2 separate regions of the Homo sapiens genome follow, and region 2 is linked to region 1. The links come from fine-mapping of genetic effects on gene expression. Tissue or cell type: whole blood. Region 1 holds a variant in brackets; the other region holds the start of a gene. All regions are shown on one strand. Distances are between the middles of the regions.

What was found. PIP is the estimated chance that this variant, and not a neighbour inherited with it, causes the effect.
Region 2: it holds the start of ZFPM1, and the variant in region 1 is fine-mapped to the expression of ZFPM1 in whole blood (TOPMed, PIP above 0.99).

What each region holds. Positions count from the first base shown.
Region 1 is chr16:88,543,924-88,548,078 of GRCh38, reverse strand. No RefSeq gene overlaps it. Among named protein-coding and RNA genes, the nearest start is that of ZFPM1-AS1, 15 kb to the right of the region's middle. The variant A/G (reference allele first, on the strand shown) is at 1,922.
Region 2 is chr16:88,450,903-88,455,057 of GRCh38, reverse strand. ZFPM1 (zinc finger protein, FOG family member 1) reads right to left here and starts at 1,778. Exons shown (of 10, transcript NM_153813.3): 1 at 1,380-1,778. The coding sequence starts at 1,419. RefSeq lists silencers at 774-843, 1,064-1,193, 1,654-1,743, 1,754-2,053.

The sequences.
Region 1 (4,155 bases):
CCTGGAGACCCCCGATCATCTTTCTGGCCACAGGATGTCCTGCCTGTTCTATGCCTCCTGGGTGTGGGGGGAACCAAGGGTCCAGGAGGGGAACTGTGCAGTCTCATGGATCAAAAGGGCCAAGGTGGGGTGAGGCCAGGGTGTCTGCAGCCCAAGCACATACCCATGAGTTTCACACTTGGATGGTTGTCACCCTCTGTTCCCTCACCTTCCCCACCCTCTGTCCCCTCACCTTCCCCACCCTCTGTCCCGTCGCCTTCCCCACCCTCTGTCCCGTCGCCTTCCCCACCCTCTGTCCCCTCGCCTTCCCCACCCTCTGTCCCCTCGCCTTCCCCACCCTCTGTCCCCTCGCCTTCCCCACCCTCTGTCCCCTCGCCTTCCCCACCCTCTGTCCCCTCGCCTTCCCCACCCTCTGTCCCCTCGCCTTCCCCACCCTCTGTCCCCTCGCCTTCCCCACCCTCTGTCCGGTCACCTTCCCCACCCTCTGTCCCCTCGCCTTCCCCACCCTCTGTCCCGTCACCTTCCCCACCCTCTGTCCAGTCACCTTCCCCACCCTCTGTCCCCGCACCTTCCCCACCCTCTGTCTCCTCACCTTCCCCACCCTCTGTCCCCGCACCTTCCCCACCCTCTGTCCCCGCACCTTCCCCACCCTCTGTCCGGTCACCTTCCCCACCCTCTGTCCCCTCGCCTTCCCCACCCTCTGTCCCCTCGCCTTCCCCACCCTCTGTCCCCTCGCCTTCCCCACCCTCTCCTCGCCTTCCCCACCCTCTGTCCCCTCGCCTTCCCCACCCTCTGTCCCCTCGCCTTCCCCACCCTCTGTCCCCTCGCCTTCCCCACCCTCTGTCCCCTCGCCTTCCCCACCCTCTGTCCCCTCGCCTTCCCCACCCTCTGTCCCCTCGCCTTCCCCACCCTCTGTCCCCTCGCCTTCCCCACCCTCTGTCCCCTCGCCTTCCCCACCCTCTGTCCCCTCGCCTTCCCCACCCTCTGTCCCCTCACCTTCTCCACCCTCTGTCCCCTCACCTTCTCCACCCTCTGTCCCCTCACCTTCCCCACCCTCTGTCCCCTCACCTTCTCCACCCTCTGTCCCCTCACCTTCCCCACCCTCTGTCCCCTCACCTTCTCCACCCTCTGTCCCCTCACCTTCTCCACCCTCTGTCCCCTCACCTTCCCCACCCTCTGTCCCCTCGCCTTCTCCACCCTCTCTTCCCTCACCTTGTCCACCCTCTGTTTTCTCACCTTAGAAATGAGCAGAAAGGTGCAGAGATGGGCGATGGGTCTGGACAGATGTTTCTCCATAGACATACAGTGGCCAGTGAGCAGGGGGATGCTGCGTGGCACTGCCGGTCACTGGAGAATGCAGATTACAGCCCCAGTGAGACTCCGCTTCTCATGCATTCAGATGCTGAAGTCAGACAGTGCTGCAGCATGTGTTGGTGGGATGTGGAGGCCTGGCATGCACTGCTGATGGGAACAGCAATCGGTGTGACTGTTGTGGAAAGTAGGGTGACAGCCACTCAAAAGCTCAACCTCGGGCCTGGGTGCGGTGGCTTATGCCTGTAATCCCAGCACTTTGAGAGGCTGAGGAAGGAAGATTGCTTAAGTAAGGAGGTGGATACCAGACTGGGCAACATAGTGAGATGCCATCTCTACAAAAAGTAAAAAAAAATAGCTGGGAATGGTGCTGCACGCCTGTGGTCCTCAGCACCTAGGAGGCTGAGGTGGGAGGACCCCTTGAGCTCAGGAGGTTGAGGCTGCAGTGCACCGTGATGGCGCCATTGTTCGCCCTCTGCCTTTGATTGGAGAGTGATGATTTCCTCGTGCTGGCTGGAGACTGGAGCATCCCATGTGCATGCTTCCTGAACTTCTATCTGACTTTACTTGTATTATTATTATTGCAAAGGTAGAAACAAAAAGAGACGCA[A/G]GATGGTCGGGCACAGGACCCCTGTCCCCAGCTCATGAGGTGCCACCGGGATCTTTTTGCAGCCCTGGCCGGCCCTCTGTGCCCTGTGTCCCACCCTACTCCAAGTCCCAGCTATCCTGAGTCAGGTGCAGCAGCCTTCAGGAGCCAGTGGGGCTCACTGAAGCGGGTCTCACTGGCTGAGGTCCAGGCGTGAGCAGGGCTGGCCCCAGCTGGGAGCTCCTGAGGAGAACCAGCTGCTTATTCTGGAAGCCTCCCCGTTCCTTGGCTCATGGCACCCCCCCCATCTTCAAAGCCCATTGAGTCCTCCCATCCCACCTCTCTGGTATTCTTCCTGACCCCTCTTCCACTGATAAGAACTTTGTGATTATGCTGTGCCCACCAGGATGATCCAGGGTAATCTCTGTATCTTGGGTCAGCTGATGAGCAACCTCAACTTCCCCTGCAGCCTTAACTCCCCTCTGCTGCATGAGGCTGCGCCTTCACAGGCTCCCCCTGGGGATGAAAACACAGGCATCTTTGGGGCCATTCTTCTGCCAGCCGCCCCTCTCCCGGCATCGTTGTCTATGTCTGCTGCCTGTATTTGAATCCAGTGTACGTGCACACCTGAGTGGCCCTGCATCTCCCGGCAGCGTCCATGGTAAGATTCCCTGTGCTGACTCACAGAGCCAGACGTGGTGGCCCAGGCCCATAATCCCAGCTACTCAGGAGGCTGAGGCTGGAGAATCGCTTGAACCTGGGAGGCGGAGGTTGCAGTGAGCCAAGATGGAGCCACTGCACTCCAGCCTGGGCGACAGAGCAAGACTCCGTCTCAAAAAAAAACCCAAAAACAAAAAAAAACAAAAAAACTAGTAGTTAGACTGTGTGTTACCATGTGCTGATGTTTATTAGTTACTGAACTTGGGATTAACTGACTTCTTTGTCAACAAGGTCTAAACCAAGCCACACACCCTCATGGTAGCCTCTTCCAAGTCTGAGGTTTGCTGAGGGAGGGTGAGTGCAGCCCTGAAGTGGGAGCAACCGAAGCACAAAGCATGATGTGAGCAGGAGCCCAGCTCCCTCCAGCCACTGCAGACATTGCATCAAAAACTGCCCCCGTGTTGGCCAGGTGCGGCGACTCATGCCTGTGATCCAAGCACTTTGGGAGGCTGAGGCAGGAGGACCAATCGAGCACAGCGGTTCACAGACCAGCCTGGGCAATATAGTGAGACCCTGTCTCTTATTTTATCTATTTATTTATTTATTTTTGAGACAGAGTCTCGCTCTGTCACCCAGGCTGGAGTCAGTGGCGCGATCTCCGCTCACCACAATCTCCGCTTCCCGGGTTCACGCCATTCTCCTGCCTCAGCCTCCCGAATAGCTGGGACTACAGGCGCCCACCACCACGCCTGGCTAATTTTTTGTATTTTTTTAGTAGAGATGGTGTTTCACCGTGTTAGCCAGGATGGTCTCAATCTCCTGACCTCTTGATCCACCCATCTTGGCCTCCCAAAGTACTGGGATTACAGGCGTGAGCCACCCCGTCCGGCCCCTGTCTCTTCATAATAAAATTTTTATAATGAAGAAATTGCCTTGGTGTGTTCCATGGTGGTGTCTGTGATTGTGGGAACCAGTTTTCTTTTCCTTGGCTATTTTCAAATTTCACTGGTCCTTTAAAAAAACACACAGTAGAACTTTAAAACAACAACAACTAAAGTCGTACATTGACACCCAACAAACACCACAGCTCCTGGTGAGGTGAGAAGTGGCTTTTGACTCACAGGGAGTCAGGGCTGCACTGAGCAGTTTGCAAATCTCAGCTCCAATGATCATGAGGTATGAACAAACTCGCCAAGGCTACCTGCCTGAAACCACAAGTGCAGCCAACAATGATGATCTTTGGTAGTGCTTTTTTTTTTCTTTTTTTTTTTTTTTTTGAGACGGAGTCTTGCTCTGGCGTCCAGGCTGGAGTGCAGTGGTGCGATCTTGGCTTCTTGGCTCATTGCAACCTCTGCCTCCCAGGTTCAAGTGACTCTCCTACCTCAGCCTCCCGAGCAGCTGGTACTACAGGCGCCAGCCACCATGCCTGACTGATTTTTGTATTTTTAGTAGAGACGGAGTTTCACGTATTGGCCAGGCTGGTCTCGAACTCCTGACCTTGTGATCTGTCTGCCTTGGCCTCCCAAAGTGCTGGGATTACAGGTGTGAGCCACCACACCCGGCCTCCCAGAGTGCTGGGATTATAGGTGTGAGCCACC
Region 2 (4,155 bases), 93 kb after region 1:
GTGGCTTTTAATACTTGAGTTGACACGATAGAAGGCGACTTTCGGAAAACAGGTCCCGTTTGCGCTGAGGGAGTTGGGTTACGGGAACCGGTTCATGCCTGTGACCCCCGCCTCGGGAGACCTCCTGAGTAGGGAAGCTCCCACAGGCCCCGCACAAGGGGTCCTGGTGGCAGTGGTCGTGTGGACAAAGGAGGTAGTGCCCGGGCGCCTACGGCTGGGCAGCGGGCGGGTTTCCGTCGTGGCCTCCTGGCAGGGCTCAGACGACCTGCCCGTCAGGCTCCGGGGAGGCGCCCCGGGGAGGAAGACCTGCGTCTGGGCCCTAACTGTGAGGCGCAAAGTTATTATTGGCATAGGGTGGGGAGGGTAGCTTCCTGTGCTCTTGCTCCCTCCTGGCACAGCCCAGAGGCCCAGGCCAGACAGTGGCCCCGACAGCTTAGTTCTCATCGCGGGGGCACTGGCAATGTGGCGGCGGGGCAGCAGCCTCTGACCGGGCAGGGAGCCGGACCAGCGAGAAACTTAGTGGCGTGCAGGGGCGACCCCGGCCCGGGGCTGCGTCCTGGGAGGCCCTTCTCTGACTCAGAGCAGCCCATTGGGATGCCAGGGGGTGCCCGCGGGCATCCGAGGGCACCATTTGTTGCCCATGCCGCCTTGGCTGGGACACTTGCAGGGTCCAGGAGGTGTCACCAGGCTGGCGGGGCCTGGGTTCAGGACTTCAGCGCTAGGGCACGGGGTGGGGGTGTCTGGGGGGCTGGAGCCAAGTGCCTAGGCTGCGGCAGCTGCGCGCTACCCCCTCCCCTGTCCTGCGGCTCTGCGACGGCACCGGTGGGGGTGGGCGCGGGCCGGTGCCTGCCACTTGGCCAGGCATCTCCGCGGCCCCGGGTGTCCCCTCTGCCTCCCAGGTCTCTCTCTTCGCTTCTAGATACAAAGCCTGGGAGAGTCAACCGCGCGAGATAAGATCACAATTTCAGCCCGTCCCGACAGAACGATCTTATCAGGACGGGACTTGCAGAATGTAATATTTTAAACTTTATCTGAGCCCAGATCGGGGCCGCCCTATCGCCGCACCATCTCGCAGATGCGGGGGAGGGGCAGGCCGCGAGGGGCCGAGCTGCCCGGGCCGCGCCCCCAAACACCCTCCTCCCGGCCTCCGGGCGGCCCCCTCCTGGGCTGAACCCCCCGGTGCCCAAGCCGAGACGCGGGGGCCCAGGCCGCCGGCGGAGATTAGATTACGGCGCGCTTGGCACAGCGCGGGGGGCGCGGCGCGGGGTGAAGGTCGCCGGCGCCCAGGGCAGAGCGGGGACGGGCGGGGGCGGCGCTGGCGGCTGGGCTCCGGCGGGGGTCGGGCGCGCGGAGGGGACCGCGGGCAAAGTTTGACTCACGCTTGATCTGCCGGGGGTTGCTCTGTTTCCGCCTGGACATGTCTCCGGCGCCGCGCGCCCTCCCGGCGGCCGCCTCTAGCCCCGGGCGGGCGGCGGCGGGCGGCGGGGGCGCGGCGGGGCCGCGGGGCCGCTCATGCCCCCGGCCCCCGGTCTCCGCGGCCGCCCCGGCCCGCGCCCCCAGCCCGCGCGCCCAGCCCCGGAGCCGCTGGAGCTGCCGCGGAGGCCCGAGAGGCCACGGTCCTGCGTTGCGGGCGCGCGGACTGCCCGACGGGCGGGTGCCGGCTCCTCCGCTCCCGCGCACTCGCCGCCGCCGCCGCGGCCGCTCGGCTTTTCTCAATGGAACCCGCGGGCGGCGAGCGGCGGAGCAGGCGGCCACTGCGAGGGCGCTCCTGGCGGGCTGGAGGCACGGGGCGGGGCCGGGCCTGAGCGTCGTCGGCCGCCGCACCTCCCGCCCCGCCCCCGGCGCTCCGGCCCCGCCCCGTGCCTCCTGCCGGGCCCTGCACCTCTCCGGCTCCGCCCCCAGCGCCGCGGCCACGCCCCCGCCAGCCCGGCTCTTCGTTGCTCTGGCTCCGCCCCCAGAGCCGCGACCGCGCCCCCGCCCGCCTCGCTCTTTACGGCGCTGGCTCCGACCCCAGCGCTGCGGCCCCGCCCCTGTCCGTCTGGGCCTTCAAGGCACTGTCCCCGCCCCGCTCGATGCCCCGCCCCTTCCTGGTTCGGCCCCGCCCGCGCCCCGGGGAGACCTCTAGCCTCCCCCACTCCTCTTTGGCCCGGAGGTCATGTCCCCAGGCCGCGCTGGGAGTCTGAGACCTATTCGGTTCTGTTCTGCTGCCCCGCGGCACCGCATCCTGCGCCCCGCCTCTCGGCGCCAGCTCCGCCTCCAAACCTGACCCGACCTGGTTGGGTCCTGAGACGCCGAGGCTCCGCCCCCGCACTGTAACTCCGCCCCCAGCCCTTGGTCCCTCCCTAGACCCCTGGGCTCTGCCGCACGCTCCACGTGCGCGGTGGGGGCAGTGACAACCGGCTCAGGAAGCCCGAGGCCTTGACGCCCACGTTTCTCTTGGGCCAGACTTGGGGTGTGGAGCGGATTCGGGCCAGGGAGGGGGCTTCCGTCCCAGACTGCGGTGGGGTCCGCCAACTGAGAGCAGGATCTCGGGTCTTCCCCTGTGAGCTCAGACCAGGCTGGAAATCGAGGAGGGGGCGCGGGAGCCGGCAGCCCTGGGCGTTGCCACTTGGGGCCTCTTTCCTCACCGAGCCTCTCCAGGGCGCCCCGCAGGAGACCCACGAAGGAGTTGCCCACAGCGCCCGGGCCACAGCCCCCTCTCGGAGCAGTCAGAGGTCAGCGAGGTTTGTGGGCGCGGTGCTGTCAGCTCAGGCCTGGAAATGGAGAACTGTTGCCCTCTGGGGTGTGTTCAAGAGCCCCACTTCACGGAGGCTCGGGGACTTGCTCAAGGTCACGCATTGGGGGGCTGTCCCCCACTCCCAGCTGAGTTGTATCATCTCCTTTTAATGTTCTCGGTCTACACTTGCTACCTGCTCCCCCATCCCCCGTACTCATAAGAAACGGGCGTCAGTGGGCCCAGGGGCAGACAGGAAGGACCCCTCCCACCTGATGATGAGATCATCGCACAGCAGGACTGTCACACCACCCGCCAGCCTGCTGGGAGCTCCTAAGACCCCATCTCGTGCCAACTTCTGTGACCTATTCCCTGGCTCCAAGGAAGGGGAGAAGTGGGGGCTTACCCTCAGAGCCTGGTACAGGAGAGTGGCGGGTGGGTAGGAGAGGCAGGGGTACAACACTGGATATGCGCCGTCCCTCCCCACTGCCATGGACAGACAGGAACACTGAGACCAGGAGGCCAAGAGAGCTGCCCAGGGGCATACGGGTCCTCCAGCCCTTCCTGCTCTCTGCCAGGGTCCAGTGGGCACAGCCTTCCCACAGCTGCTCTCTGGAGGGGGTGGGGCCCATGTCTGATTGGTTCACTCAACCTAGGACCTCCCCCCCACCCTCCCGCCCCCACCCAGTGCTTGTCAACTGGATGGAGCACCTACCTGTCTGGGTTTCCCACCAGGCCTCGCCTCCTTCCCCAAAGAAGTCCACTTTAGAGTATGTGGACCTGTGAGTTAGGGGAGTTCCTGGAGGAGGTGGCCATGGGCTGGCACCTGGGCTGGGTCTGAAGCTCCACGCACAGCAAGTGGCACCCAGGCTGGCGCTGCTGGAACGGGCGGAGATCTGTGTTGAGGTGGATTCCGAGGGTCAACAGGAGACAGCCATGATCATCCATGATTGATGTCTGTCTAGGCTGCAGGAGGAGACGATGGGGATCATTTTGGCTGCTGCTTTGCCTGATCTGATTTATTTCTATGAGCCCATATATAGATGAAAACATGGAGGGACATGCCCAGGGAAGCCAGCGAAGGGGGCAGGCGGCAGGTCCAGACCACAGCCTGCTGCCCTGCCTCCATCACTTGCAAGGCCCCATGCAAAATGAAAATATGAAAATGTGGAGCCCCCTTGATCAAAACCCCCAAACCCCAAAACCCCAGGGCATCAAGGGCAGGATGTTGAGCCCGGTGTGGTGCCCTTCCCAGCTCGGGCCCTGTGCCCCTGCACCGGTCACAGGTCCCCTAACCCTGCCAGGGCTGCTTTTGTAGCACATTCCTTCTACACTCTGTCCCTCTACCTGCCCGGAGGAAGGCATTATTACAGATGAGAAAACCGCAGCCAAGAGGGGAGGCTGCCTGCTGATGTCGAGTGGTAAAGCTGCAGGACCTTGCA